3 separate regions of the Homo sapiens genome follow, and all the other regions are linked to region 3. Evidence: fine-mapped expression QTL. A gene starts in region 3. Each other region holds a variant in brackets. All regions are shown on one strand. Distances are between the middles of the regions. Region 1 overlaps RNF169 (ring finger protein 169). Region 2 overlaps RNF169 (ring finger protein 169). Region 3 holds the start of XRRA1 (X-ray radiation resistance associated 1).

Region 1 (8,250 bases), 110 kb before region 3:
CATATATGTGCATTATCCCCATCCCCCACAGTTTAGAGCCTTCTGCTTTTCTGGGGGTTTCAGCCTATGAGACAAACTATAATCAGGCTTCATTATTACTTTTCAAATGGCCAAGGGTTATCTGCAATGTTGATCTAAAATCCTAAAAAATCACCCTGAAGTCAGGCAAGGAACAATACTTAAACTCCATACTATGGAAACAAGGTATCTAGCTGGATGCAGCTGGTAAATTCAGTCCCATGGACCTTTGGGGGTTTATTTTCCTTAGCAGCTGACACCATGTGTCTTTTGCATCCCTGGTGGTGCTTGGTGCTTCTGCCCATCTGGGCTCATTGAGAATAGGGATGAAGATATGATTTTAGGGAATTTCTGATGGGCTGGCATGCCCCATGTAGTATGAGTTACTATATAAAGTCATGTGACTGGCATTTTAACAGACCTTCCAGAGCTTATATATCCCAATATATGTTGTTTCCTTTGAGTAGCCCCAGCAGGATACTGCTTAGTTTTTCCAGTGCCATTGGTGAAAGCATTTCTGGAACTGTCTTCAAAGACTAGAAACACTGACTCCCAAAATGCTAGAACTGGAAGGGACCTTAATGGTTATCTATTCCAGCCTCCTCCTAAGGTCCTCCTCAGCTTCTAGACCTAGAAGCCAAAGTCCAGAACAGTGACCCATTGATCAAGGCAGATAGTATAACTCCTTTTAAGTGTTCTCAGATTTGCCTTTTCTCAGGGCAAATCTTCAGTGTTTTGTGGTTATTTGTGGTTGAGAGAGAGAGAGAATGTAATGTCTGAGACTAGCCAGCAGCTATTTGAAGCCTCTGGGAAAGAAGGTGGCTTATCAAGTGGGTTTGTAGTAATGAGTGCTGCTGTAAAGCAGAGCCATTTTCTTGTGCAGCTCATAGTTCCCAAACAGTTCCCAAACAGAAATTCCAGAGATGTCTTAAACATTGTGGTCATCATTGAGATAGGTGGAATCTCTTTGGTGACTACGTTGGTGGGGAACATCACTCACCTGAATGTATGCATTCTGTGTTCTCTGTGTGTGTGCACATATGCAGATGTATGTTTTAAAAACATTTACCAAACTCATGATTTTGTAGTCACACCACTTCAGTTCTGGGCCCTACCAACAATTTATGTCCTCCAAGAGCTGCTGGAGGGCATGTTTGTGCCCAAAACAGAAGAGCTGGCTCTGGTTTACAGAAGACAGGGAGGGTGACCTTACTATAAATGCCCTTAGAGGAAACTTATCAGTTACTGCCATTTCACGCATTTCCTTTTTGATCTTAGTAAATATTATTGGAAGGCTAGTCTTGTTGGTAGGAGCAAAGACACTTATTTTTCCACTTGCCATCTTTCTCTATATCTCCAGTAATTTGAAAAACACTTTTCAGTTGGAATTGATTTTTGTCTTTGGTAAAAAGAAATATTTTTAATAGATAAAAGATATATATTTTAAATATTTCCCCAAATTAATACTTTCATTTTAAGAATTGCATAGCAGTTGTAACAAGTGCAGAATGAAGAACAAATTCTTGTTAAGCAAATAGTCCAAACTCTAGGTCCAGCTTACTGCCTTCCCCCCTTGTACCTACAGTGATGCCTAGGATGGTATTGACAGTTGTTTTCTAAACTTCCTGCTGAGCAACAGTCCTTCAAATATAGGTAGAGTGGTCTAGGTTAAGGAGGGAGGAGGGTTGATCTTTAATCAGGTTGGCTTTGGAGGAAGGAAAAACCACTAAGGTATTATCTGAATTTTAAGATGCTTCCCATCCTTAATAACTAAAACCTGAATGCTTTTCTTTCTGAAAAATCTCCCTCTCTCCTTCCATGATTCTGAAGTTGGTTAAAAGTCGATATGTTGATGTGTATTATTTGGGGGAACAGAAAAGGACAAGGAAGGAAACAGAACGATGGGAAGGGTTTGTGAGCTAGAATAAGAGGTGCAGGATTTCACAAAACAAATTCCTCACAAATCATTGAAGCCCAGTTCACCATACAAATTACCCATGTCTTACTCTGTTCCTTGTATATATGCATTCTGGGTTTTTTTATTATTAAAGGGGAAGTTAGGGGGGAGGGTGAAGGTCAGTCTGAGGGGAAATCCAGGAAATGTGGTGCCCTTAGAAGGGGGCTGTCAGCTCTTTTCCATAGAGAGGGAAAGAAACTTTGAGAAAATGTTCTTGACCCATTGATTGTATCTGCTGGAAGAAGTCATCTGGGCCTGTTGGGTTGGTATCAGATCAGGGGATTATGCATCCAGCCCCTGGCCCCTTTAATCTATTTGCCTCTTTTTAAAAAAGGTTAAGTCTTCTTGGGTGAGGCTTGCCAGGGAAACTCCTAAGTGGCTTCACTTATTTTTTAAATTTTAATTTAATTTTTAAATTTTTGCTTGGAAGCAGCACTGGTAATAAATGTTTTATTTTTTGTTCATTTTCCCTAAAGGAAAAATGTCCTTAAGAGATTAAAGCTCTTAATTGATTACTGTCTGGTTACAAACTGGCAAACTGACTAAAATGGGAAGCTGCCACCGTGCCTGACTCATGTAGCTGATGACCGAAGGCTCATCCTTTCTTTTCTATTTGACAGACATTTACTGAGCTTCAGACTTGAGCCAACCCTGAGCTGGACTGTGGAGATAAAGCAGTTCCTGCTCTTGAGGAGCTCAATGTCTAATGGAATGCATTTGAATGTATGTGTGGCTGGAGAGTTCATTTATGGTCTTAGGAAAGCCATTTCTGGTCCCATTTAGAAAACTGACCAGCACCCAGCAAGCTGCATTCTACATTTTAGAGACCCCATTGGTATTTGTGAATTTGATTGCACCACCGCTTTTCCTTTACTAAGTAATGTTATGGAAGGAGAATGAATTTTCTCCTCTAGTGATTACAGGACATTAACATCTCTTCAGAAGCTGCTTTTAGCTTAAGCCCCAAGAAGTGAGGTGGGTTGTGGATCACTGACATGGTCAGGGGAGGCCCACACCTCAATTCAGTAACCACCTAATCTCTCCCCCAACCTGATCTCTCATCAGAGCTGGCAGCAACTTGGGATTCCTTTCCTTTTTCCTGCCTAACTTTTCATTGAAATGTCTAGTAGGAGAGTGAGAAAAGAGAACAAAGGCTGGGTCACAGTCATAGAATGTTACAGCTGGAATGGGCATGGAAATCATCCAAGTTAAACTTCTTCTCTGCCCCCCGCCCCCA[CT/C]TTTTTTTTTTTTTTTTTTTAACCAAACGAACTTGTGATCCAGTGCCCTATTTTATAGTGTGGTTTTCCAGGGTCTGAATAAATAATCATTAAAGTTTGACACACGCAGACACACGCACCAATGATGGGGATACCCCCAAATGATTTAGGAGGTTATTTTATTTTAATAGTTTTTTCTTCCTGATTTTTTTCAGTTAGTTAGAGTTAAATGTACCTATAGCCCCTGAATACATGCTCAGGTAGAGAAAGTCTCCATAGTATAAGTAAGTAATATGAATGTGGAATCTTGGAAAGTGATATATTTTGATTGGAATAATTTTAATTAAATTTAATGATTTTAATTAAGAATTAAAAGCCAGCTAGCCAAATTTTCTTTAAAAATTGGAAACTCATTATGGTCTTAAATTGTCCTCAGGCAGCCTTTTCCTCATCAACCCATAGAGTGGTCTTTTGAACTGGTATCTAAACATACCTGGTTATGAATTCTCAAAAGAGAAAGCAGGTCTGGGGCGGGGTGGTCAGGAGACAGATTCTAGGGAAAGTGCTGAAGAGATTTTCTTCTGAAGATGATCTAGGAAATGCATCTTTATACATGATTGTTAGCTGCTGTAGCTTTCTGAAGAAGATTGTAGAAAAGAGACTAAGATATATGCAAGGGTCACCAGTTTAGAGATCAGTCAAATTGGAAAAAGTGCCAAGACTGGATGTGCAGATTGTTCTATGTATTATCAGTATTTTTTTCCTCTTAAGAAAAAAATTTACTCTCTCTCCTTTGTGAGTAAATGCCTCCTTAATGCCTTTTAAGTAAGGTGGCAACTTTTAACTGTCATCTTGTGAGAGGCAACCTCAAACTCTAAGCAGACTCCCTCTCTCCCTTTCTGGTGTCTTAAATCAAGAACTAGTTTGAAGCCAAGGCAAAGCAAGGTTTGTTCATCTTCCTTTCCTGTCATTTAAGGTAAAACAGGCAATGAACTCGCTCTTCAAATACCATAGTTCAAGAGTAGCTGTTGGCCCTGGTTCCAGATTAATATAGCAGCAGGCAGATTGCCCCTTCTTGGGGCCACCACCCTCCAAAGCTGTGCCACCAATGAGAGCATTGGGTTCAAGTTTGCATCAAACATGGTATTACCAACGCTGAGCCTCCAGCAGAGCACTTAAAAGTCCTAGTGAGAGAATAGATACTATGCAAGGGAAAAAAATTTAAATGCCAACGAATAGTTTTTTTTTTTTTGAACCTGATACACTGTTTGTTTACTCTCAACTCTTTGTACAAATATTATTGTCCTAAGGGCCTTTTCCCCTCCTGCCTAGAAAATAGGTTGTGTATTGGTTTTATTCAACCTGCTGTCTGCTTTAGGATTGGAGAAGGTACCTGGATCCTTGTGGACTGCCACTGCTGGCTGCCTCCTCTCCAACTCATCAGAAGAGCATTTTGACAAAGACAGAGGACTTGGACCAGGGCATGCCCTGTTGGGGATGTTTCTGTCAGCAAGGACATGGCATGGAATCAAGTGGGCTGATGTGTTGTTATTTAAACAGTACCAAAGTGCATTCTTCAATGTATGTTTGCCTGCTTGAAGCAAGGCCCAAGTTGAGAATACAGTAAAGGAAACTCATGAAAGTGGATGTTCTGTTTATAGTCAGAGTCTTGTCTCTGGTGAACAATCTCAGACAAAAACATGGGTTAAGCTTAGGCTGTGTGTGGATTTTTGGTGCTGTATGTGCTCTGGGAGATGCCCCATGTTGGATGTCTTGCTTTGGCATTCAGAATGGCAGTAGAGATTAGGAGCAGGGATGGGGTTTCCATGGTGTACAACTACGTCTTTTGGCATAAGTTATGTCCAGTTTACAGTTTGCTCCAATTTACTGTCATGTTCACATTCAACCATTCATGCTCCTAATGAAGGAACCAAGAAAGAGTCTGAGTAAAGAACGAATATACAGGATGACACTGTCCCTGCACATTAGGGCTGTACTCACAAGATCTGGTTTTTAAAAATACCCTTTTTTGGAGCCATTGTTCAGGAATTTGTTAAGATCCCCTTGGTGTCAGTTTCTCATACAACAGAGAACAAATGTATCCCTGTTGCATCTGAACTGGAAAACCATTTTTAGAGGGAAGTGTGACAATGCTGCTGTGGCCTGGGTTCCAAGAAAGAATGCATGTGGCACCCAGTCTATTGCCCTGTGCACCCACTCTTTATTGCCGCTGGGCCAGGCACCAGGTCATGCCTGGGCCAAGGAGGGGAGATCCTGACAAGGGGATGCCACCTTGTGGCCAGCAAGTGGGGCCCAGCTGAGCTCTGAGGCCTGTGGCCGGCTGGTCAACCTTGAGGTGCGGTCCAGGGCACAGAGCCCTCGGGGAGAGCTGGGGCACAGGCCGGGTGGTGCACACAGCCCCCATGCACAGCTCTAGCCTTGTGAGTCACTGGCTGTGGGCTCCTGGCAGAACTCATCCATGAACTCGAGGAAGTGGCCGAACTTGGGCTGGCTCTCACTCAGCGCTGGGCAGGCCATGGGGAGCGGGGTAGTCCCGAACACTGTGCGCAGAGAGCCACTCACCAGCTGCCGGTAACGTGCCTGGAACTCCTTCAACAGCCTCTTGGCCTCCAGGTACTGCTTGTGGTTCACCAGCCGCCGTTCTGTCCACTGGTGCAGGACAGCACCTGCAGGAAAAGAAGCCAGGAGAGGCACCAAGCTCATCCTGGTTCTCACCTAGCCAGAAGCAAGAGGATTGGGTCCAGAGACCCTTGGAAAATGGGATGGTGTGGCAGGAGGATGCTAAGGGGCTAAAAATGGCCTTTCCAGCTTGGGAAGTCACTGACTTCCTACTGCCCCTATGCATTGACTCTATCTTAAGCCCTGGTTCAGGACCTTAACATGCTGTGTGATTTTAGGCAACTCCCTGCCTCACGCTGGCTCTCCTTTTGTCCATCTACATGTAGAGACTGATGTAGGCAGTTGCTCTCTAAGGGCCTTTCCTGCACTGACACAAGCCCTTTCTTTGCCTTTAGCCAGCAGGCGTGAACTGGATCTGGGATCCTGGCAGCTGTGGCAGAGCCGTACCTAGTGGAGCCTCTGTAATGTTCCGGGGATCCCGCAAGCGAATGAAGATGTCATCCAGAAGTTGGGCTCTAGTCTTCTTTGGGGGTGGAATCGGGATTCTCTGGGCCTGGCAGAAGGTCATGGAGGAGGGTGTTATCCCAGGTTTATGCACAGACTTCCCTGGCCTAACTTCATACAGTCACAGCAACAGGCTGGGGGGCATCTGGGGGTGCTGGGAAAGCATGGCCCTCAGAGGGTCCCAAGGTGACAGCCACATCTGTAATTGTGGGCGGTACTCAGGGGCCATTTACACATTCAGTGAGCTGGATGTTTACCCGTTTCTCTTTGTGAACATAGGGTTTCTGAAGAGTGTCCAGCTTGGGCTTGGAGGAGTGGCACAGGAGTGGGTGCTTCAGCATTTGTTGCAGGGCTTGTGCATTCTTCTGGATTCCTAGGGCAAGAAGGCAAGACTGAGTCAAGGCACTTCCCCCTCCTCCTCCCAGATGCCTCCCCTGATTGCTTCATTCCTCAGTCTCACAGCAGCTCTAGGTAAAAGGATTTGAGAGTCCCCAAAAGAAAACACTGCCCCCAGGTTTCTTCCGGATCTGTTCCAGTGCCTGAAGTTCCATCATTCTTCAGTGAGTATTTGTCCCATATTATAATGGAAAAATAGCACAGATTGTAATGGGTAAATAGTATTGGAGTGGGGGAAAAGGCTGGCTCCAATGTGACCCCATTAACCTCAGGGGGTTATATCGCAGGGGCTAACACCCAGAACAGCCCAGCTGAATGCCAGTTGCTTTGGAAGTACTGATTAACACAGAGATGAAGCTGCCTCCTTTGCCTCCAACCAGATAGGAACGATTTTGGACGTTCAGTTTGGGAACTTAACCTGGGCTGGGAAAAGCTCAAGAATCTGGCCATTCTGGGTGTTCATTCATCACACTTTTCCTGAGGAGAGACTTTATCATCCAGAGCAGCTAGGCTGAGACCAACTAGAATCTCTGAATAAACTGTGGCTCCCCATAAGCCAGTGAAGGCCTAGGCCAGGACAGGGGTCCCAATATGTGGGGCTTCAAACAAAGGACACCCTAAAAGGAGCCCTTTGACAGGTATTTAGACAGAGGACAGCACCCTAGTTGGGAAAAGACAGCTTGGTGCCAGCCTTGGCTTGACCCTGACTTGCTCTGAGCTGTGGAGATGGCCTCTTGCCCTAGAGCAAGGATATGCCCTCACATACCCTTTGGCTCAATGAAGGCTGGATCAGGCTTGGCTGTCAGCAGTTCTTCATAGCCGTGGTACTTGCTGGGAAGGAAGGCAGTTGGGAGTTTCCTCCGAGTCCCTTTCACCTCTCTGGGTGCCGTTGGTGGTTTCTTTTGGTCTTTCTCCTTTAACTCTAAATCATCCTTATGGATGACGGAGGAAGGCAGTTCACTCACCTGTGCCCAGGAAGAAAACGCATTCATTTGTCACTCATTCATTCATTCATTCCATGAACATTCGGAGTATCATCTCTGTGCTGGTCTCTGCTGGGCCCTGTTAAGGGCAAGGGTAAGACCAAGACTGGGATGGAAGAAAGCAGATATAAAAATAGACAATTGATAAATGCTTTAACAGAGGGAATACAGTGGTTTTGGGTGATCCCAGAGGAAGCCCCAACCTAGCCAAGAAGCTCCCTTGGAGGAATGCCTTAGCCTGAGCTAAGTCTTGAAGAGCCAGGAGAGCCATCCCTACGGAGCAATGGGGAGAGGTGTGGACTGCAAGTGATGAGAAAGAATGATTGTTTCAGACAAGGAACAGCACGAGCAAAGGCGCAGAGGTAAGAAACATCAAGGTGCATTTTCGGGGAACTAAAGATTGGTACAGTTAAGTACAAAGTGAAGAGATAGGCAACTGCAGTGGTAAGCAGGACCCGGATCGGTAAGGACCATTATATGCCAAGCTGAGGGTGCGTTTTATTTTGTATTTTCTTTATGCTCACTCTGATGGCAA
Region 2 (5,000 bases), 180 kb before region 3:
CCTCCCGAGTAGCTGGGACTACAGGCACGGGCCACCACGTCTGGATAATTCTTTTTTATTTTTATTTTTATTTATTTTTTGAGATGGAGTCTCGCTCTGTCGCCCAGGCTGGAGTGCAGTGGCGCGATCTTGGCTCACTGCAACCTCCGCCTCCTGGGTTCACGCCATTCTCCTGCCTCAGCCTCCCGAATAGCTTGGACTACAGGTGCCCGCCACCATACTTGGCTAATTTTTTGTATTTTTTTTTTTTTAGTAGAGACGGGGTTTCACCGTGTTAGCCAGGATGGTCTCAATCTCCTGACCTCGTGATCCGCCCACTTCGGCCTCCCCATTCTTTTTTATTTTTTAAAAATAGAGATGGGGTTTCAGTATGTTGCCAGGGCAGGTCTTGAACTCCTGGCTTCAGGATATCCCCCTGCCTTGGCCTGTCCAAGGTCTTGAGATTACAGGTGTGAGCCACTGTGCCCAGCCACTGTCTTTGCTTTTTAAGTGGAATTTATCAATAAGGATGATTAGTGGCCAAGAATAGTCAAGACCATTTTGAAGAACACGATGGGTGGATTTGCTTTCTCAAATATCAAGCTGTTTAAAGCCATGTTAATTAAGACAGTGAAGTATTGGTATCAGGGTGGTTGAATAATTAATGTTAAAATTAAAGAGCATAGAAACATGCCCTCATATATTTAAATTTGGTGGATAATGAGTGGCCATTACAAATCACTAGGGTAAAGGTGTCATTTTTACTTTTCATGGGTGGTTAGCTAACCTTAGAGAAAAAAATAGATCTTTAGCACCATATGCAAAAAATTATTTGTAGAGCCAGGCATGGTGGCTCACGCCTGTAATCCCAGCACTTCAGGAGGCTGAGGTGGGCGGATCACTCAAGGTCAGGAGTTTGCGACCAGCCTGGCCAACATGGGGAAACCCCGTCTCTACTGAAAATACAAAAATTAGTCAGGCGTGATGGCGCATGCCTGTAGTCCCAGCTACTCAGGATGCTGAGACAGGAGATTCGCTTTAACCTGGGAAGCGGTGGCTGTAGTGAGCTGAGATCACGCCACTGCACTGCAGTCTGGGTGACAGAGCTAGACTCTGTCTTAAAAAAAAAAAAAAAAGGTTGTAAATGGATTAAAGGTCAAACTGTAAAACTTAGAAAATGCTAGGACTATCTCTATGAAAATGGAGTAGAGAAAGGCTTTCAAACAAACAAAAAATGTAAAGATTGATAATTTGACCACATTAAAGTTAAAAATTGGGCCAGGCGTGGTGGCTCATGCCTATAATCCCAGGACTTTGGGAGGTTGAGGTGAGAGGATTGCTTGAGGCCAGGAGTTCAACACCAGCCTGGGCAACATAGGGAGACCTTGTCTCTACAAAAAAATATAAAAATTTAGGCAGGCATGGTGGGGTGTGCCTGTAGACCCAGCTATTCAGGAGGCTGAGGTGGAAGAATACTTTGAGTCCAGGAGTTTCGGGCTGCAGTGAGTGCTCTAGCCTGGGTGACAGAAGCGAGACCCTGCCTCAAAAGAAACAAAACAAAACAAACACACCAGAAACAGAAAAAGAGATTAAGTAAGAAGACCAACCAGAGGCTGGGAGAAGATAGTTGCAGTGAAGTAACTGACAAAAGATTGATATCCAACATATATGAACTACAAATCATTATGATGACAGATAGCTTATTAGAAAAATGGTGAGAAGATTTGAATAGGCATTTCATAGAAGAAGGAAACTGAAAGTCTGGTAAACATCTAGAATGATACGCAACAGCATTAGCAATCAGGGAAATGCAAATTAAACCAGTGATATGCCATCAGACTGCTATAATTTGTAATTGATTAATTATAAATAATGAGCACCTATATACTGCTGGAGGAGTATAAGTTGCCATACAACCACGTTGGAGAGCAGTTTGGCCATATCTAGTAAGGTTGAAGAGATAGATTCCTTGCTATGCAGAGATTCCATTAATAGGTGTGTGCCATAGTGAAACTCTTGTGTACATATGCACACACACAATGATGCTCACATTACAGCACTGTAGTACTAGAAAATGTAGTAACAGTTGTCTTTGATAGGAGAAGGGATAAATTAGTTTCTACAGCTGTTAGAATGAATGAACTGGGTATATATCAACATGGATAAATCTGGAAAAAATACTTGCAAAAGGAAAAGTTGCAAAAGAATATGTATCCTTTGATGCCATTTATATAAGTAAAAGTACGGAAGATAGGAGTCATTTCAATAGCTTGAGTGAGAAATGAAGAAACAATCAGCCAATGTAGACTCTACTCTCCTTGTACCCCCCAACAAGGTCTCCCTCTGACATCCAGGCTGGAGTTCAGTGATGAAATCATGGCACATTACAGCCTCTACTTTTCAGGCTGAAGCGATCCTCCCACCTCCAAAGTAACTGGGACTACAGGCATGTGCCACCGTGCCCAACTAATTTTTTGTATTTTTAGTACTATACAGGGTCTCACCATGTTGCCCAGGTTGGTCTTGAACTCCTGGGTTCAAGCAATCCTCCTGCCTCAGTCTCTCAAAGTGCTGGGATTACAGGTGTGAGCCACCATACCTGGCTTTAGACTACTGTTTCACAGTTTGATAATGAAAGGAAGGAAATAGAGTGCATGAAAAAGGGAAAGTACAATTGTAAGAACCAAGAGCAGAACAGATTTTACTCAGAATTTGAGTTCAGGGTACTCTTGGAGAGCCCATTCCTGGGCCTTGGGCAGAACTTGAGAGTCTAAGCGATAGCCATCGTATTT[C/A]TTTTTTGATGTATACTGCAGGAACAGTAAGCTGCCAGTTTGCTTATAAATTGCCACTAGCTTTTCAAGGGGCTGGAAATATTTATCTCATCTTGGTAGAAAGCAGGTTATGGATATAAGAATTATAATTCATAGGAGAAGGTAGAGGCCAGGCTTAGTATTACTGAGGCCATTTGTTCATTTTAGCTGTAGATATGAAAGATATCCCCCAAACTGTTAAATTGTGGGGATACATGGTTACTGACATCTAAACATATCTACCAGTAGCTCGCTATTTTTTTCAAAATAATGGCTCGCAGTTCCTCCATGAATAATGTACATGAGTATGTTTATTTCCTGTGTTACACAGTACTTGGCATACGTTTAGCCTCTTGGCTAGTGTGTTTTCATTAGATAAATGACTAGGAAGAACAGAATTCTATAATAAATGAATTAAATCAGTATGTTTTCACCTTACAGTTGCAGGTTTCTCTTACCCATTGTTTCTTCCTGTTTTTGCACGTTACCACATGCATTTTTCGTTTTGTTTTGTTTTTGTTTTTTTTGAGATGGAGTCTTGCTCTGTTGCTTAGGCTGGAGTGCAGTGGCACGATCTCAGCTCACTACAACCTCTGCCTCCTGGGTTCAAGGGATTCTCCTGCCTCAGCCTCCCGAGTAGCTGGGATTACAGGCCAGTGCCCCCATGTCTGGCTAATTTTTTTTATTTTTAGTAGAGACAGGGTTTCACCGTGTTGGCCAGGCTGGTCCCGAACTCTTGACCTCAGGTGATCCCCCCCGCCTCGACCTCTCAAAGTGCTGGGATTACAGGCGTGAACCACCGTGCCTGGCCTCCATGTGCATTTTTGATACTTAGTCATACTAACATTAAGGTTACTGGTTGGGGAAATACTAGTTGTAGTAATTTTTTTTGCCATCACTTAAAGTAGATTTGGGCTAGTTTTATATAGTCTTGGACTTGGCTTGCTTTTGAGTCTTTGGCTCTGTCTACTACCGATTGAACATCCCTAATTGAAAATCTGAAATCGAAAATGTGCCAAAAATCTGAAACTATAAGTGCTGACATGACATGACAAGTGGAAAATTCTACATATAAGTACTTAACACAGACTTTGTTTTATGCACAAAACTATTTTAATTATTAACTGGTCGCTATTATGGCTTGTGCCTGTAATCCCAGCTACTCTGGAGGCTGAGGTGGGATGATCACTTGAGGCCAGGAGTTCAATACCAGCCTGGGCAATATAAGGAGACCCTTGTCTCTACAAAAGTAAAAAAATTAGCCAGGTATGTTGGTGCACACCTATAGTCCCAGCTACTCAGGAGGCTGAGGTGGGAGGATTGCTTGAGCCCAGGAGTTTGGGGCTGCAGAGAGCTATGATTGCATCACTAAACTCTAACCTGGGTGACAGGGCAAGACTTTGTCTCCAAAAAAAATAAAATATACAAAATTACCTCCAGGCTGTGTATATAAGGTATATATGGTACATAAATGGGCTGGGCATGGTGGCTCATGCCTATGATCCCAATACTTTGGGAGGCCGAGGTAGGAGGATTGCTTGAGGCCAGGGGTTCGAGACCAGCTTGGACAACATCAAGACCTTCTCTCTATAAAATAATTTAAAACAAAAAACATAAATCAATTTCGTATTTAGACTTGGTTTCCATCCTTAAGATAATTAATTATGTATATACAAATACTAAAAAATCCAAAGACAGTCCGAAACACTGATGGTCCCCAACATTTCAGATAAGGGATACTCATTCTGTATTCAGCATTGTGGAAAATGCTTTGATGTATAAACTAGTCTGGAAAATATAGAAAGTTTTAACTTTCTTGATGTAATTTGAATTAGTTCTATGAATGATTCCTTTGCCTGATCTAAGGGAAAAATTGGTCTTTTTTAAAAAAATCACTTTTATTTATGCAGGTCATGTATGTCAGGGAAGGGGAGTGAATTTGAAATCAGAAAATCTGGATTTGAATCTCAGTTCTGCCACCTTTGTCTCATTGACCGTGACAAAGCTGCTTAATTAACGTCCTTGAGAGGTTTCTGTTTTCTGGTCTGTAAAAAGTAAATACTACAACCACACAGGGTTATTATAAGGCTTAAATAAGAATATGTGTGGAAACCCCTAGCACAGTACTTGGCACTTAATCCTTCAGTAAATGTTAATTTACTACTAGGGATGCTGGTTTTTTTTTTTTTTTTTTTTTACTTTTATGTATTG
Region 3 (8,250 bases):
GGGATCGTTTACATGATTATTTACACAAAATAAATTTCTGCCAGATAAAAATAGGAAAGTCAAAGTTGAAAGATAAGACACAGTCTGGGAAAAGATATTTGCCATGCATATAATACAAAAGATGACTCACACTGAAGCCTGTAGGAGGCATGCAGACCTGGATGCTATCGCAGAAATTCTAGTTCCCTATTAGGAATATTAGGTGAGAAGGTGTAGATCTACAACTAATGGGCCAAGAAGGGCACATAACCCCTGGTTACATTATCTAAGACAAGTAAGATCTTTATATGGTAGAAAAAAAAGTCAAAGTTCCAGATTTGGAGGCTGACTTCCTGGTTAGCTTTAGTTACCTCTGGTCTCCATCTCAAACTTGATGCAGCTAATGCCAATCTGACTGTAGCGCTTCCTCCAAAACAAACATCTCTCTTTCTCTCTCTCTCACACACACACACACAGAGTAAGGCATATTTTTGCTTGTTCCATTCCTTTGGCCTATCACATTTCTGCCCCTCTTCCTTGCCCGGCTACATACAGATTAGCTTTCCTGTATCTCCCTCTCCTTAGGCTGAGCCTCCTCAAGCCCACTTCTTTTTTTATTTATTTTTTCTTTTTTTCTTGAGACAAGGTCTCACTCTGTTACCCAGGCTGGAGTGCAGTGGCATGATCTCAGCTCACTGCAACCTCCACCTCCCAGACTCAAGCAATCCTCCCACCTTAGCCTCCCAAGTAGCTGGACCACAGACGTGTGCTACCATGCCCAGCTAAATTTCTATATTTTTGATAGAGATGGGTTTTCACCATGTTGCCCAGGCTGCCTCAAACTCCCAACTCAGCCTCTCAAAGTGTTGGGATTACAGGCGTGAACCCCCTTGCCCAGCCATCAGGCCCACTTCTTAATGGAGGCACTAACATGGTTAGGCTTTGTGTCCCCACCCAAATCTCATCTTGAATTGTAATCCCCATAATCCCCATGTGTTGAGAGAGAGACCTAGTAGGAAGTGATTGGATCAAGGAGGTGGTCCCCCATGCTGTCCTCACCATAGTGAGTGAGCTCTCACGAGATCTGATGGTTTTATAACTGACAGTTCCTCCTTCACACTCTTGCCCTCTCTTGCCTGTTGCCATGTAAGACTTGCCTCTTCCCTTTCCGCCATGATTGTAAATTTCCTGAGGCCTCCCCAGCCATGCAGAACCGTGAGTCAATTAAACCTCTTTCCTTTATAAATTACCCAGTCTTGAGCAGTTCTTTATAGCAGTGTGAAAATGGACTAATACAGGCACTATACCACACTGTATTATAATGCCTGCTTCCTTGTTTGTTCCCCACCTCACTACAGGCTGTGAGTATCTCCAAGGTCAGGTCAGGCCTGGGTCCTACTTACCTCTTTTTCTTTTTTTTTTTTTTTGAGACGGAGTCTTGCTCTGTCACCCAGGCTGGAGTGCAGTGTCGCTATCTCAGCTCACTGCAAGCTCCGCCTCCCGGGCTCACGCCATTCTCCTGCCTCAGCCTCCCTAGAAGCTGGGACTACAGGCGCCCGCCACCATGCCTGGGTAATTTTTTGTATTTTTAGTAGAGACGGGGTTTCAACATGTTAGCCATGATGGTCTTGATCTCCTGACCTCGTGATCCGCCCGCCTCGGCCTCCCAAAGTGCTGGGATTACAGGCGTGAGCCTGTACTTATCTCTTTATCCTGCATCTCACACAGGACCTGGCCTACTGAAGGAAGAGTCTCAATGATTGTTAATTGAACTAACCCAACCCATGAACAAAATGCCACAGGAGCACTTCATGCAGTGGGTGAAGAAAGAAGAAGCAAGTATCAGAAATAGTTTCACAGGGTAGGTGACATTAAAGCTGGATCTTGAAAGATGAGAAGTTGGCCTGGTGTGGTGGTTCATGCCTGTAATCCCAGCACTTTGGGAGGCCGAAGCAGACGGATCACTTGAGGTCATGAGTTCAAGACTAGGCTGTCCAACACGGCGAAATCCTGTCTCTACTAAAAATATAAAAATTAGCCAGGTGTGGTGGCATGTGCCTGTAGTCCCAGCTACAAAGACTACAGCTTGGGAGGCTGAGGCACAAGAACTGCTTGAACCCAGGAGGCAGAGGTTGCAGTGAGCCAAGATCCCACCACTGCACTCCAGCCTGGGTGACAGAGTGAGACTCTGTCTCAAAAAATAAAAAATAAAATAAAAAGTGACTAGGGCAATGCTGTATCATCTCACTTTATTTTAAATAAAAGAAAAATGAGAAGTTGTAAAAGATAAACTGCAACAACAAGCTACAGGGGATCTGACTAGTGTCCACGGATTGCTTCACAGAGGTAATGAAATATCATCTGATGTTATTGCTATTTAGTGATATTTATTTTCTTTTTAGTAATAATTTAGTTATTTAGTGATAATTATTTTCTTTTCTTTCTGATCTCGGCTCACTGCAACCTCCGCCTCCCCGGTTCAAGCAATTCTCCTGCCTCAGCCTCCCAAGTAGCTGGGATTACAGGTGCCCGCTACCACGCCCGGCTCATTTTTGTATTTTTAGTAGAGACGGGGTTTCACCATGTTGGCCAGGCTGGTCTTTAACTCCTGACCTCAGGTGATCCGCCTGCCTTGGCGGGGATTACAACCATGAGCCCCCACGCCCGGCCGAGATAATTATTTTCACATGAATTTTGGCTTCCCCAAGACAAGTTTTTGTCTGTTTTATTCAGGGATATATCCCTGGTGACTAGAATAGTGCCTGTTACATAGTAAGAAACTCAAAAATATTTGTTTAATTCTTTAGACGCTTATGGGGGATATATAGGAATTAAAAAACAATACAACGTAATAGAGCATGGTATAATACAATACTGCTATTTGATAACTCTGTCATGGAGTAGTAGTTCCACCAGAGTAGCAACCAGGTCTATCTTGATCCCCTGTATCCGTTAGTACAATATTGGTGCTCAATATACATTTGTGAAAAAAATTAATTAAAATACAACGTAATAGAGCATGGTATAATACAATACTGCTATTTGATAACTCTGTCATGGAGTAGTAGTCCACCAGAGTAGCAACCAGGTCTATCTTGATCCCCTGTATCCGTTAGTACAATATTGGTGCTCAATATACATTTGTGAAAAAAATAATTAAAATCTAGAATACTATTACATCCTAAAACCGTAAAAGCAGAGTGTCAGAAGGGATATATATTGGTTTTGATTTTTTTTAAATGCCGGCTTGAAAACCGAGTTCAGATACATGCTATCTGGCTTTGGGTAGGTTCTTTAGTTTCCTCCTCATCTAACAGGGCTGTTGTGGGACTCAGTGAGAGAGAGGATGGCTGGAAGTGCACATAGGATACTGCCTGGCAGACTGTAGGCACTCAGTAAACGCGAGTTCTCCGTTAACACGAAAACATTACAAACAGCTAAAATGACAGCTGCTTGAGAGAATAATCGGTAAGTGCCACAACCGGGCTAGAAAAGGATGAAGGACAAGCTCCTGCCCACTCCTTTGGAAACTCCACACCTGGGCCGGAGAAAGACTCGAATTCGAAAACTAAGTTTCAGTCGCACCTGCCTCCGGCGTCGCTTCAGCCTCCGAGGGGTCTGCGGAGGCGACGTCCCAGTCAGGAGGGATGCGCGCCTGCGAGCCCCCCGGGGATCTCGGAGCCGCTCCACTGCGGTGCCTGCCGCTATCTTCCCCACGCCTTAGTAACTGCGACGCGACGGCAGACAGTGTAGGCGGCAACCGACGGCCGGGACGTCTAACCTCAAGTCCCAGCAAGCCCCGCGGCCACGTCCTCTGACTACCTCGCGCCAGCAAGACCCAAACTACGGATCCCGATTGACTCCGCGCGGCGCGTCACGCTGTCAGCTCCAGCCAATCGGCTTCAGACAAGTCGGAGGGGAGGGAGACGCAGAGGCGGACAAGATGGCGGCGGCAGCTGTACAGGGCGGGAGAAGCGGTGGTAGCGGAGGCTGTAGTGGGGCTGGTGGTGCTTCCAACTGCGGGACAGGAAGTGGCCGTAGCGGCTTGTTGGATAAGGTGAGGAGCCGGTTCTTGGGAACAGTTGAATCCTGGGGAGGCCTGGGAGGCGGCGAGCCAACCTTCCCATCCCGGTCTCCCTTATTTTCTACGGCCTTTTGAGGGGAGCCCTTGTGTGACCACTATCACAACCCTACGCACGCTTGGAGCCTGCCCTTGCCCTCATCACACTTCAAACCTGGACCCGGTCCTCTTTAGAACTTCTTCTTTTCTCGCAAGTGTTCTGGTCCTGGTCGCCACACCTTTTTCGGTAATTTGATTTTTCCTATATTTAATCGTGTCCATCTCTTTTCTCCTGGGGGGCTGGGTGCACTGTTGTCAGTGCCCATTTCACAGACACGGAAAACCGAAGCCCAAAGATTAAAGAATCAGTATCCCCCAAACTCTCTACCACCATCACCCTTGCGTGCTGCTACAGATTCCAAAGTGCTTCTTGTCCTTTTGCTTACTGAAGTTTTTAGGCGTTTTATCATGATAGGCGAATACTGAAAATATTTGAGTATTGACTGTTCTACTGGGCTGACAAGAAGCCTTTAAGATTTTTCTTTTTTTCCTGTTGTTTTTCCCCGCCCTCTCCTCTCTTCCCTCCACCTCCCTCTTTGCTACCAAGTGCACTGCTGCCCGCTCACGCTTGCCCCTTTCCTCCCTCTGCTCATCCAAAAAAATTTTTTTTAACTGCAGTCCTAGCAACAAGGGTTTAAAAGAAAAGAAAAAAAGGAAAACTGTCCCTGGGTTGGCCTTTCTTGCTCTTTGCACAGCATCTTGGAAGAAACAGTTGCACGGAGAACAACGTCCTGGTGTTGATTTTGCCTCTAATTAGCTTTGTGACCTTGAAATATGCTTGCTCTCTCTATATCTGTTTTCTCATCTGCAAAGTGAGAGATTTAGCCTTAAAATGAGGGACTTAACTCTAAATTCCCTTCCAGTTCTCTCATTGTAGGGCCCTGGGCTGGTTTGATGAGAATTGTTAAGCATGGTGTCTTTAATATAGTAAGCAGAATTTTTGAATATAATTGAAAACAGCTTTCAGACTTCCCTGTGCATAACACATGGTAGGTGCTTAAGAAATGAAAACATGATTATGTTGAGGGGTTAAGATCCAGGTCTTTTTACTTGTCTTTTTGAGTGTCATTGGTTTTGAAAGACATGGTTCTCACACTCTTCTCTTGTGAGAGGGGTCACGCTCCATTGCCCAGAATGGATCTTAGCTCACTGCGGCCTTGAACTCTTAAGCTTAGGTGATCTTCCCACCCCAGCTTCCTGAGTAGCTGGGACTGCAAATGTGCACCACTATGCCTGACTAATTTTTTTGCTTTTAACTTTTCTGTAGAGTCAGGGTCTTACTGTGTTGCCCTGGCTGGTCTCAAATTCCTGGGCCTCAAGAGATCCTCCCACCTTGGCTCCCCAAAGTGCTGGGATTACAGGCATAAGTCACCATGCACCTGGCCTCACACTCAAACCTTAAGATACAGAAACATATTCTGGAGGTTGGGATGGTAAATTGCTTCAAGACATGTGAGAGTATGGGGAATTGATGGTCATTTGTGTACACAAATCCTTCCCTCTTGCTAGGTAAGCACCTCATAGCCTGTGCTTACCTGCCCCACTAACTGCTCTTGCTCTTCCTTGCACTTGGATCATCATCAGCAAACATTAAGTATGGGCATTCTGCTAAGGCAGTATAGAATACTATTATTATGGAATAGTGTATATGGCACCATTGTGTTATTGAAAGAACCCGGATGTGGGGATCATAAGATTTCAGCTTTGAAGTATTTCTGCTACTTGCTAACAGTATGAAGATTGGCAAGTCACTTAACCTTTCTTCATTTGGAATTTTGGAATCTCTGGCACCTAGATCACAGGGTTTTGGGAAGAACCAAGTAAGACAGTACACATTAATGATCTCCATTACCTGTAGTGTCCAGTACAGATGTGTGATGGTGGAGGAGTAAATCAAGAATCCTACTGTCAGAGAGCACTCAGAATAGCCAAATATAGGAGATGGGGTAATTGAATCTATTTAAGGAAGTATATGGTATATTCGCTCAAGTGTGTACTTGTTACGGAAGTTCAAATGAGAGAAATAGAGTGAACCCTGCGAGCTTATTGATAAGAGTAAGAGCCTCGGCCGGGCGCAGTGGCTCACACCTGTAAACCCAGCACTTTGAGAGGCCAAGGCAGGCGGATCACCTGAGGTCGGAAGTTCAAGACCAGCCAGACCAAGATGGAGAAACCCCATCTCTACTAAAAATACAAAATTAGCGAAGTGTGGTGGTGCATGCCTGTAATCCCACCTACTCGGGAGGCTGAGGCAGGAGAATCGCTTGAACCCGGGAGGTGGAGGTTGCAGTGAGCCGAGATCACGCCATTGCAGTCCAGCCTGGGCAACAAGAGGGAAACTCTGTCTCAAAAAAAAAAAAAAAAAAAGAGTAAGAGCCTGAAGGAAAGGCCTCATTCCTGAAAGTGGAACTGGCACCTTATTTGGGGGGAGAAAAGAAAGACATGCCAGGTAAAAAAGTCTCCTTGAGTAAAGTTACACAGATGTGATGGTGTTTTATGTTTCTCAGGTATTGAGTTGACTAGAAGGCTCTCTAAAGGAACTGTAGTGACAAGTAGATAGCATCTGATTAGGGAGGCCGTGGATTGCTTGAAGTAGAGGAAAGCTGTTGAAGGGTTTTGAGACTGTGTAAAGTGGTTTTTAGGAAAACTATTCAGATGGTTTGGAGAGACAGAAATTAGAAGACTTCTTAATAAGGCCGTATACACAGTAGTGTATAATATATAATAAAAAGAGACAAATTTGAGTTCTAGTGCCGCATGTTATTAGGTTGGTGCAAAAGTAATTGCTGTTTTTGCCATTGAAAGTAATGGCAAAAACCACGATAACTTTTGCACCTACCTAATAAAAGCCACATGACCTTGGATAAGTTGTGTGATATTACTGAATTTAAATTTCCTTATGTAAATATTGTGGACATTCATACATATTATAGGCTTGTTGTAAGGATCAAATTGTATAGTGCTGGTAAATGTTCTTTGGGTTTTTTAGTTTGGTTTCCTCTGCCCTTTTTATTTTATTTTTATTTTTATTTTTGGTAGAGACAAGGTCTCACTGTGTTGCCCAGACTAATCGTGAACTCCTGGCCTCAAGTGATCTGCCCACCTCAGCCTCCCAAAGTACTGGAATTACAGGCATGAGCCACCGCACCCAGCTCTGTTCCCTGTCCTTTGGAATCTACTAGAAGTAAATGTTCTTTGTAAAGGGCTGTCTGTGGTAAAAAATAGAATGACAAGGTGATGAGAACCCCAACATGAGTAGCAGAAATAGATAAAAGGTCTCACAAAAGAGTGCTTGGAAGATTTAACCAATAAGTGAGGGACAGAAGAGAATAGTCAAGAGCTGCTTGAGTGCCTTTTCTTGGAAAACTTAGTTTCAGCCTTACATTGAACTGTTCCCTCCCTGAATTCCTCTAGCACTTACACTGCACATGGGAATTAAGCTGTCACTTAATATGACATACTGTCTTGTATTATTTCACCAATTTGTATTTGCCCGTTTTCCTGTGAGTGCTTCTCTGTAGTGATCAACACAAGATAAGTACTTTTAGCATTGAATTTCGCAGAGAAAAAACTTGAGATCTGCCACCTCAGTCTTCAGAAACAGCTTTAGAGGATGGTGCCTCTAATTGTTTGAAGACTGAGGGTACTGTGGGAGAGAACTTGGGGAAAAAAATGTTATTCTCAGTGGAGCAGGATCTGAATGAATAGAGAGGCTTTTGCTGTGTGGGAATGAGAAGCTATTACCTTTAATATAATTTTTTTTTTTTTTTGAGACAGAGTCTCGATTTGTCGCAATCTCCACTCACTGCAACCCCCGCCTCCCAGGTTCAAACAATTCTCCTGCCTCAGTCTCCCGAGTAGCTGGGATTACAGGCATGTGCCTCCATACCCGGCTAATTTTTGTATATTTAGTAGAGACAGGGTTTCACCATGTTGGCCAGGCTGGTCTCAAACTCCTGACCTCAGGTGATCCAACGGCCTCGGCCTCCCAAAGTGCGGGGTTTACAAGCGTGCGCCACCACACCCAGCCTAATATAATTTATTTAATTTGATGTGTCTTGATTTGGGCGGGGAGGGTTTTTATTTTATTTCTGCAGCTGTAGTTTCACTTGCCATAAAGAAGTGTAATAAAGAGATGCAAATATGCTCCT

The links. PIP is the estimated chance that this variant, and not a neighbour inherited with it, causes the effect. A credible set is the group of variants that fine-mapping cannot tell apart.
Region 1: its variant is the best candidate, but not a certain one, in a credible set for the expression of XRRA1 in whole blood (INTERVAL, PIP 0.85).
Region 2: its variant is the best candidate, but not a certain one, in a credible set for the expression of XRRA1 in liver (GTEx, PIP 0.79).

The regions. Positions count from the first base shown.
Region 1 is chr11:74,837,575-74,845,824 of GRCh38, forward strand. It overlaps RNF169 (ring finger protein 169), which reads left to right. Exons shown (of 6, transcript NM_001098638.2): 6 at 1-4,839. XRRA1 (X-ray radiation resistance associated 1) reads right to left here. Exons shown (of 19, transcript NM_001378157.1): 16 at 7,499-7,697; 17 at 6,594-6,709; 18 at 6,280-6,385; 19 at 3,336-5,879. The coding sequence ends at 5,626. Among named protein-coding and RNA genes, the nearest start is that of RNF169, 93 kb to the left of the region's middle. RefSeq lists an enhancer at 6,279-7,478. The variant CT/C (reference allele first, on the strand shown) is at 3,213.
Region 2 is chr11:74,767,508-74,772,507 of GRCh38, forward strand. The region is part of intron 1 of RNF169 (ring finger protein 169); the gene reads left to right. Among named protein-coding and RNA genes, the nearest start is that of RNF169, 21 kb to the left of the region's middle. RefSeq lists a silencer at 911-1,000. The variant C/A (reference allele first, on the strand shown) is at 2,772.
Region 3 is chr11:74,945,364-74,953,613 of GRCh38, forward strand. It overlaps XRRA1 (X-ray radiation resistance associated 1), which reads right to left and starts at 3,728. Exons shown (of 19, transcript NM_001378157.1): 1 at 3,565-3,728. It overlaps SPCS2 (signal peptidase complex subunit 2), which reads left to right and starts at 3,903. Exons shown (of 5, transcript NM_014752.3): 1 at 3,903-4,036. The coding sequence starts at 3,923. RefSeq lists enhancers at 3,096-3,950, 3,448-3,497, 3,618-3,677, 3,808-4,027, 3,951-4,805 and 1 more.